Linked DNA regions of Homo sapiens: region 2 is reported to be linked to region 1. Evidence: microRNA targets listed by miRTarBase, many of them from high-throughput screens and not tested one by one. Region 1 holds a microRNA gene; the other region holds the end of a gene's coding sequence.
Evidence for each region. The annotated mature microRNA hsa-miR-4639-5p reads UUGCUAAGUAGGCUGAGAUUGA and lies in region 1 at 1,619-1,640, shown strand. An mRNA with a match to its seed (bases 2 to 7 or 8) in the 3' UTR can be bound and repressed. Matches are read on the target gene's strand: a 7mer-m8 pairs with bases 2 to 8, a 7mer-A1 pairs with bases 2 to 7 and ends in A, and an 8mer does both.

Region 1 (3,417 bases):
TTTAAATACTTCTTAGTGAAAATAAGATTAATGGCTCTTGTCAGCCAGACATTGTAGACTCTCAGTATAGCACCTCCTTAGATTTGTAGCCTCACTGCCTCCTCCTTAGTCGATTCTTACCTTGCTCATGTTCCTCTACCTGGAATGTCAGACACAGATATATTATTAAACAGAAACAGTGCTGAGGACATCGCACCTGGCCAAAGTTACAATTCATTTGTTAATGGGACGAATAATGTGGCAATTAGCCTTGTTTGAGAGGTTATGACAAGTCATCGAAGGAAGGTTAAAACTTCACATTTGCCAGGGACACTTGTTATAACTGAGGCCAATCTGTCTACAGCAGTTTAGGTGCTCTTCAGAGTTTTGGGCAGTGTGACCAGTATCTGAATTTTACAGGAGTTTTTAAGTGTGACATAACCTTTTAGTAAATGTAGAATATAGTATTGTATACAACTAGGATGGGCTTAAACAGGATGAAACTAAGGTTGGAAGGTAAACTAATCACACATAATATGCAGTTTTATGTACATTTTTGGAGCTCTCTGATGTTCGAGGCACTTAAGAAGTCATACATAATATACATGTTATGTCAAATACTGTACCAGAGGAATAGAGGATTTGCATGTGATACAGACCAAAGGGTATCCAAGCAAGGCGACAGAAAGAATGGCCCTCAGGACAGAGGGAGCAGCAAGACCAGAGACACCAGAGCATGAACATGCTTCCTAGATTTCCCAGGGAGAGGAATCGTTCCCTATCCTGGGGCATAGCAGCTGCAGGGAATGACAGGAGACGTGGCTGGAAAGCTGGGGCCAGATGGCGGAGACTCCTCAGCTCCACGTTAACAACGTGCTCCCTTGGCAAGCCGTACAGATCCTTTGAAGGATTTTGAGCAGAGAAATGACAAGTTTATACTAGAAACAAGCAGCATGGAAGGTAGGCTGCCTGCATGGAGTCTGGAGGAGGAGAGCAGCGCAGAGAATAGTGTAAATTCTTCCTGCAAGTAGTATTGAGGAGGTACAAATGGGAGGATAGAACTGGATTTAAATAGTTTTCAGAGAGAAGAAAGTCAAGTGAAATAGGACAAAGAGTCCAAAGTCAGTCCGTGGTCTCCATTCGGAGAAAAAGGGCTTGGGAAAGAATATATGGAGTTTGGTTTTGAATGAGCCAAAATTGAGGTACCGAAGAACATCCAGGTGGTGAAGCCTATAGGAGATTGGACATTTTTCATGTGATTCTTAGGACAGAAGCTGGCACTGAGACTAGAGATTGGGGTATCATTTGAATAAAGGTGAGAATTTTGTCTTTATGTATAGAGTTCCTTAAGATTCTATCAGAATCCATGTCAAGATACAATTTTTCTGATTAAAATAATTTCTTTTAAAACACTATAATGCAGAAACTTATGTGTAATTATTTTATGTTTTGTAACCTTAATGTTACCGAACTTGTGTTAAATAAGTTTATCTTGTTTGGGTCACAACTTTTATTCCAGAGAAACGCAGTTCTTATTTTGATTTTGCCTTAATACTGATGATTTTTTTTTGAAGTTCTTTAATGTTAAGCATTTTCAGTGTGACTTTTAAAATTGCTTTCCTTAAAAGTGACTGTGAAATTGCTAAGTAGGCTGAGATTGATGTCAGGTTATCCCCAAGCATAACCTCACTCTCACCTTGCTTTGCAGGCATATCTTTTTCTTGCACATCAAGGAGGCCCTCTTGGCAGGCCACCTCTTGTGTTCCCCAGAGCAGGCAGTGGAACTCAGTGCCCTCCTGGCCCAGACCAAGTTTGGAGACTACAACCAGAACACTGCCAAGTATAACTATGAGGAGCTCTGTGCCAAGGAGCTCTCCTCTGCCACCTTGAACAGGTGAGGCTGTTGAATATAGTATTGTTTACAACTAGAATAGGCTTAAACAGGATGAAACTAAGGTTGGAAGGTAAACTAATCACACATAATATGCAGTTTTATGTACATTTTTGAGCTCTCTGATGTTCGAGGCACTTAAGAAGTCATACATAATATACATGTTATGTCAAATACTGTACCAGAGGAATAGAGGATTTGCATGTGATACAGACCAAAGGGTATCCAAGCAAGGGGACAGAAAGAATGGCCATCAGGACAGAGGGAGCAGCAAGACCAGAGACACCAGAGCATGAACATGGCAGCATCAGGGCTACTGCATATATTCATAGAGCTATCAAATGTATAAGCATTTCCAAAAGAAGATGAATCTGTGGTACATACACATAATTTGTGAAGTTAAGACTGGGCCATTGCCCAATTTAACCAAATATTTTCAAAAAATTTGTTAGCCTTTTATTTGAAAAATATGTAAACACAATATGAAATGCTATATAAAATGGGAATTTTTTAAATCTGTGCCTTTAAGTACAAATCTCCTAAAATAAAAAATCTATTATGTATATTGGTGTTTTCTTCATCCCAGCAAGAATTAAACCAGGAGATCTAACATAGGCATTTTAGTTATCTATTCCTGCATAACAAGTTACCCCAAAACTTAGTGACATAAAACAACAAAAATTGTCTCACAGTTCTGTAGGTCAGGAATCTGGCCATGTCTTGGCTGGGTCCTCTGGCTCATGAGACTGTAGTCAAGCTGCAGGTAGAACTCTGTCTCATCTGAAGGCTCGACTGAGGGTGGCCTCCATGCCAGGTTGACTCCTGTGGTTTGTTGGCCTACCTCCTTCCCTGGCCACAGGGGCCTCAGGGGTCAACTTTATACTTATAAACTATATGTGGACAAATGCATGAGACTTTCCAATATGTAAATTTGACTTATGTATATTTTTAGAGACTTTCCATAATTCTTCCAATTCATCACCCATCCAGCATCCCCAAAGTGTTTTTACCAAGTATTTAATAGTTGAGATCCCAGTGTCTTAGACGTTTTTTATAGTAAGTTCGCTAAATACATGAAACATCAGTAATACATAAGTTTTAAGTTGTTGTGATTCATCAGTGTTAGTATATTTCACTCGTGAAGACTACATAGGTTTATCTCTAAAGCTAATATCTGTATACTTAATTCTCTGTCCTCTTGGTGTCCTCCAGCATTGTTGCAAAACATAAGGAGTTGGAGGGGACCAGCCAGGCTTCAGCTGAATACCAAGTTTTGCAGATTGTGTCGGCAATGGAAAACTATGGCATAGAATGGCATTCTGTGCGGGATAGCGAAGGGCAGAAACTGCTCATTGGGGTTGGACCTGAAGGAATCTCAATTTGTAAAGATGACTTTAGCCCAATTAATAGGTAAGCCAAGACTTAACTTTTTTTGACCTAAGCATGTGTATACATCTGTAGCTGTCAATGTAATAGAAAATAGGAAGGGATTTACTCGACAGTCAGCTCTTAGGAATGAAAGATTTCATTTTGGTATGTACATTAAT
Region 2 (3,417 bases), not on the chromosome of region 1:
TACATTAAGATTTTTCATTCAGCCAGACGCAGTGGCTCTTGCCTGCAATCCCAGCACTTTGGGAGGCCAAGACAAAAGGATCACTTGCAGCCAGGAATTCAAGACTAGTCTGGGCAACATAGCGAGACCCTGTCTCTACAAAAAAATTTAAAAAGTTAGCCAGGCACAGTAACATACACCTGTAGTCCTAGCTACTGGGGAGGCTGAGGCAGGAGGATAACTTCAGCCTAGGAGGTCGAAGCTGCAGTGAGCTAGTATCACGCCACTGTACTCCAGTCTGGGTGACAAAGCGAGACCCTGTGTCTAAAAAGAACAGACTTCACTGGGCACCTCGAAGGGCAAGGCAGGACACTAGGTGCTTGAGGTAGAGAACCATCGTTCTTTCCATGCTGCTGTATGGGGAAGGCACATATGCAGCCACCTTGGCATAGTAAAGAACAAAACAGAGATGGTATAATGGGAGAAAAGGATCCCCCTGGTGAAAACAAAGGAAAAGAACATTGTCCCAATGGAAAGGACACAAATGAGTTTAGGAAGAGGTTGGCGGGTGTCATCTGGTCTTCCTGAGTGGGCACAGAAACTCCAGGCTTATGTCATAGTGTGGGCAAATGCATGCCACTTTCCAAGAATCACAAATGCAGGAGAGGTGCAAGAGGCCATGTCCCATGCTACAAAGTCCTGACTGCCAGGCTGGGAGTACTGGACTTTGTATGCATCAACAAAGAGCACAAGGGGAAGTCATAGTTCAACTGGCTGTGGTGGGAGGGGAATATGGGGGCAGAGAAGAGACTGCTGAATAATCCACTGAGGGCTGACATAGCAGAGCTGACATGGCAATGGAATGAAAATTAGCAGATATTTGAGAAGCACAGGTCTGATACAGATGACAGGGATGTGCAACCACATATGAAAGGGTGAGGAAGGAGGGGAGGCTGACTCTGAGCATGACTTTTATGTGTGAACACTTAGTTGGAATCCATGGACTGCCTGGCTTTTGCTACTTAAAACTTCATTGTGGTTATTATTCACATCCTGCATCGAGCCCTTGTTTTAAACTTTTAAACATCCTTAAGGTAAGTGGTGGGGGAGTTATTTCAACCCTCCTGTTACAGATGACAGAACCAAGCCTTGGAGCCTGTGACCTGAACAGGGGAGCCAACTAACCAGTGCAGAGATGGGACAAGACACTGGTGGAGTCCTCATTATGCAATCAAATAAACCAGGAAGATAGCTCAAAACAGTCCTAGTGGCATGTTTCTGGGGCAAATGGGACAAAGCTCATAGAACTTTACACCTTCAGAGCTGGGCACGGTGGCTCACGCCTGTAATCCCAGCACTTTGGGAGGCTGAGGTGGGCGGATCACCTAAGGTCGGGAGTTCGAGACCAGCCTGACCAACATGGTGAAACCCCGTCTCTACTAAAAATACAAAAATTAGCCATGCATGGTGGCTGGCACCTGTAGTCCCAGCTACACGGGAGGCTGAGGCAGGAGAATTGCTTGAACCTGGGAGGGGAGGTTTCAGTGAGTCGAGATTGCGCCACCACACTCTCCAGCCTGGGCGACAAAGCGAGCCTCCATCTAAAAAAAAAGAACTTTACACCTTCAGCTGCAATGGAAGGTGGTTTGCTGATAATGCCCATTCCAAAAGCAAATGGAAAGCTCCCACACCGTGTTGAATTTTTTTAAATGGATGCACAAGAATTAAGTCTTAGATCTTTGGTTGAACTAAATTACCCTTAGCAGGTGCTATTTTTAGACCTCAAGCTTTCCCATCATAAAGAACAATTTGTCTAAAAAGCAGGTAGAGAAATTCATTGACAAGGGCTTAGATGTTTTAGGACTTTAATGTTCTTTACATATTCAACATAAAATACTGACAATAGATAAACAATAGGGGAAAGACTTTTCAGCAAAGTATCACTCTCGTAGTCATACATTACAAAGAAAACAGTAGAGAACAAAGGATAGGGTAATTTAACAGAAATGTTTAGTTTAATGGCATAATTGAAAAACAACCAACCAATCAACTTTCTCTTCTACCTATGGAAAGAATGGTAAAAATGAATCAAGAACTTCTAGGTCTTTTTCATAAAACAGCTTAAAAAGAGGAAGGCGAAGACTGGGGAGGGGGTACAACTCTTGCTAATGGAATGCTATAATGCACAAGGTCAAGGATTTAATAAATTCTAAAAGTGTCTACATATATCAGTGATAACTGTATTATTAGAAATATAAATGTATAGAAATATAAAGTATATGGTATTAAAAACAGACCTTGCTAATATAAACATATATAAAGTATGTCACTTCTCCTGTAATAACAGCATAAAGATCGATCTACAGTTTGCCCTTCGCCTGGCACTCTTAAACCACTCCTCCAATGGTCAATGTTGACCTTGAATCAACAGCCGCTGAACCCAGGAGACCCCACAGATGTGTAGATTCAGCACCTAGAGGGCCCCCCTACCCTCTGTGCTGTGTGTTCCCATGACTCCAGAAATAATTAATCGCAACTTGCATTATTAAGTCCACAGGCAAGTTTGAAATCTAACTAGAAAAAGTAGCAGCAAAGGCAAAATACGCGGGAATTTGTTAGAAAAGCAACAAGATTTCTTAAAATGCTTCCAGTTCAAGTCAGAATTAAGGTGACATTAGGTCCCACCAGCTTTACAGAGTTGTGGATGTTTTGCTGTTGTTCTTTCAAAAAAGAAGAATCTGCAATAAACATGTTCATTTGAGAAAAATACTGTGTTAACTTTTTGTAGCCATCCCCAAGTTACTTTAAACTTTGTATGTTGTTCAAGAACAGAGTATATCCTGGTTAGGATGTGTTCATAGCTGATGCATCTCCAAAAATTTTTTCATGAAGGCGGCCAGCTTCTGAACGTCTTCAATTGTGACAGCATTATACAGAGAGGCCCGGATGCCTCCCACAGACCTAGAATGACCAAAGATCCAGGCATTGAGAACAAAAACGTCTAATTTCGCATCAAAACACCTTTTTCTAGCCACTGGCTCCTGAGAGTTGCAGCACCTGAGACCATCATTTCCGGTCTCCTACCTAAAAACTCCCGACACCTGGCACAGAGCTTCACACGTCTCAGTCATCAGAAAATTCTCCCTTAAGCTGTGAAGGTTCACCATGCTCACATTTAGAGTCATTCGAACTATTCACTCTTGGCAAAGAAAGCAAGCAAGATGTGGGGAAGAAAAGGTAAGTTGGAAGAAGATAGCGATTCTGTTCAACATTCATGAGCCTGTCGTGACAGTGCCAGCAAGATCGGGGCTGGGCTATTCTCATGTGAGGACATTCCCTGCTGCTATTCTCATGTGAGGACATTTATTTTTCATAGAGCATGCAAGACTAGCTACTAATTTGATGTTCAGTTGGAATAATAATGATTCTCTACCTCCA

Region 2: miRTarBase lists PSAT1 as a target of hsa-miR-4639-5p. Seed matches in the 3' UTR shown: 7mer-A1 at 2,278-2,284 and 7mer-A1 at 2,142-2,148.

The regions. Positions count from the first base shown.
Region 1 is chr6:16,139,938-16,143,354 of GRCh38, forward strand. MIR4639 (microRNA 4639) reads left to right here and starts at 1,619; the gene lies at 1,619-1,687. MYLIP (myosin regulatory light chain interacting protein) reads left to right here. Exons shown (of 7, transcript NM_013262.4): 3 at 1,688-1,873; 4 at 3,083-3,280.
Region 2 is chr9:78,328,504-78,331,920 of GRCh38, reverse strand. It overlaps PSAT1 (phosphoserine aminotransferase 1), which reads right to left. Exons shown (of 9, transcript NM_058179.4): 9 at 1,828-2,940. The coding sequence ends at 2,835. Among named protein-coding and RNA genes, the nearest start is that of PSAT1, 33 kb to the right of the region's middle.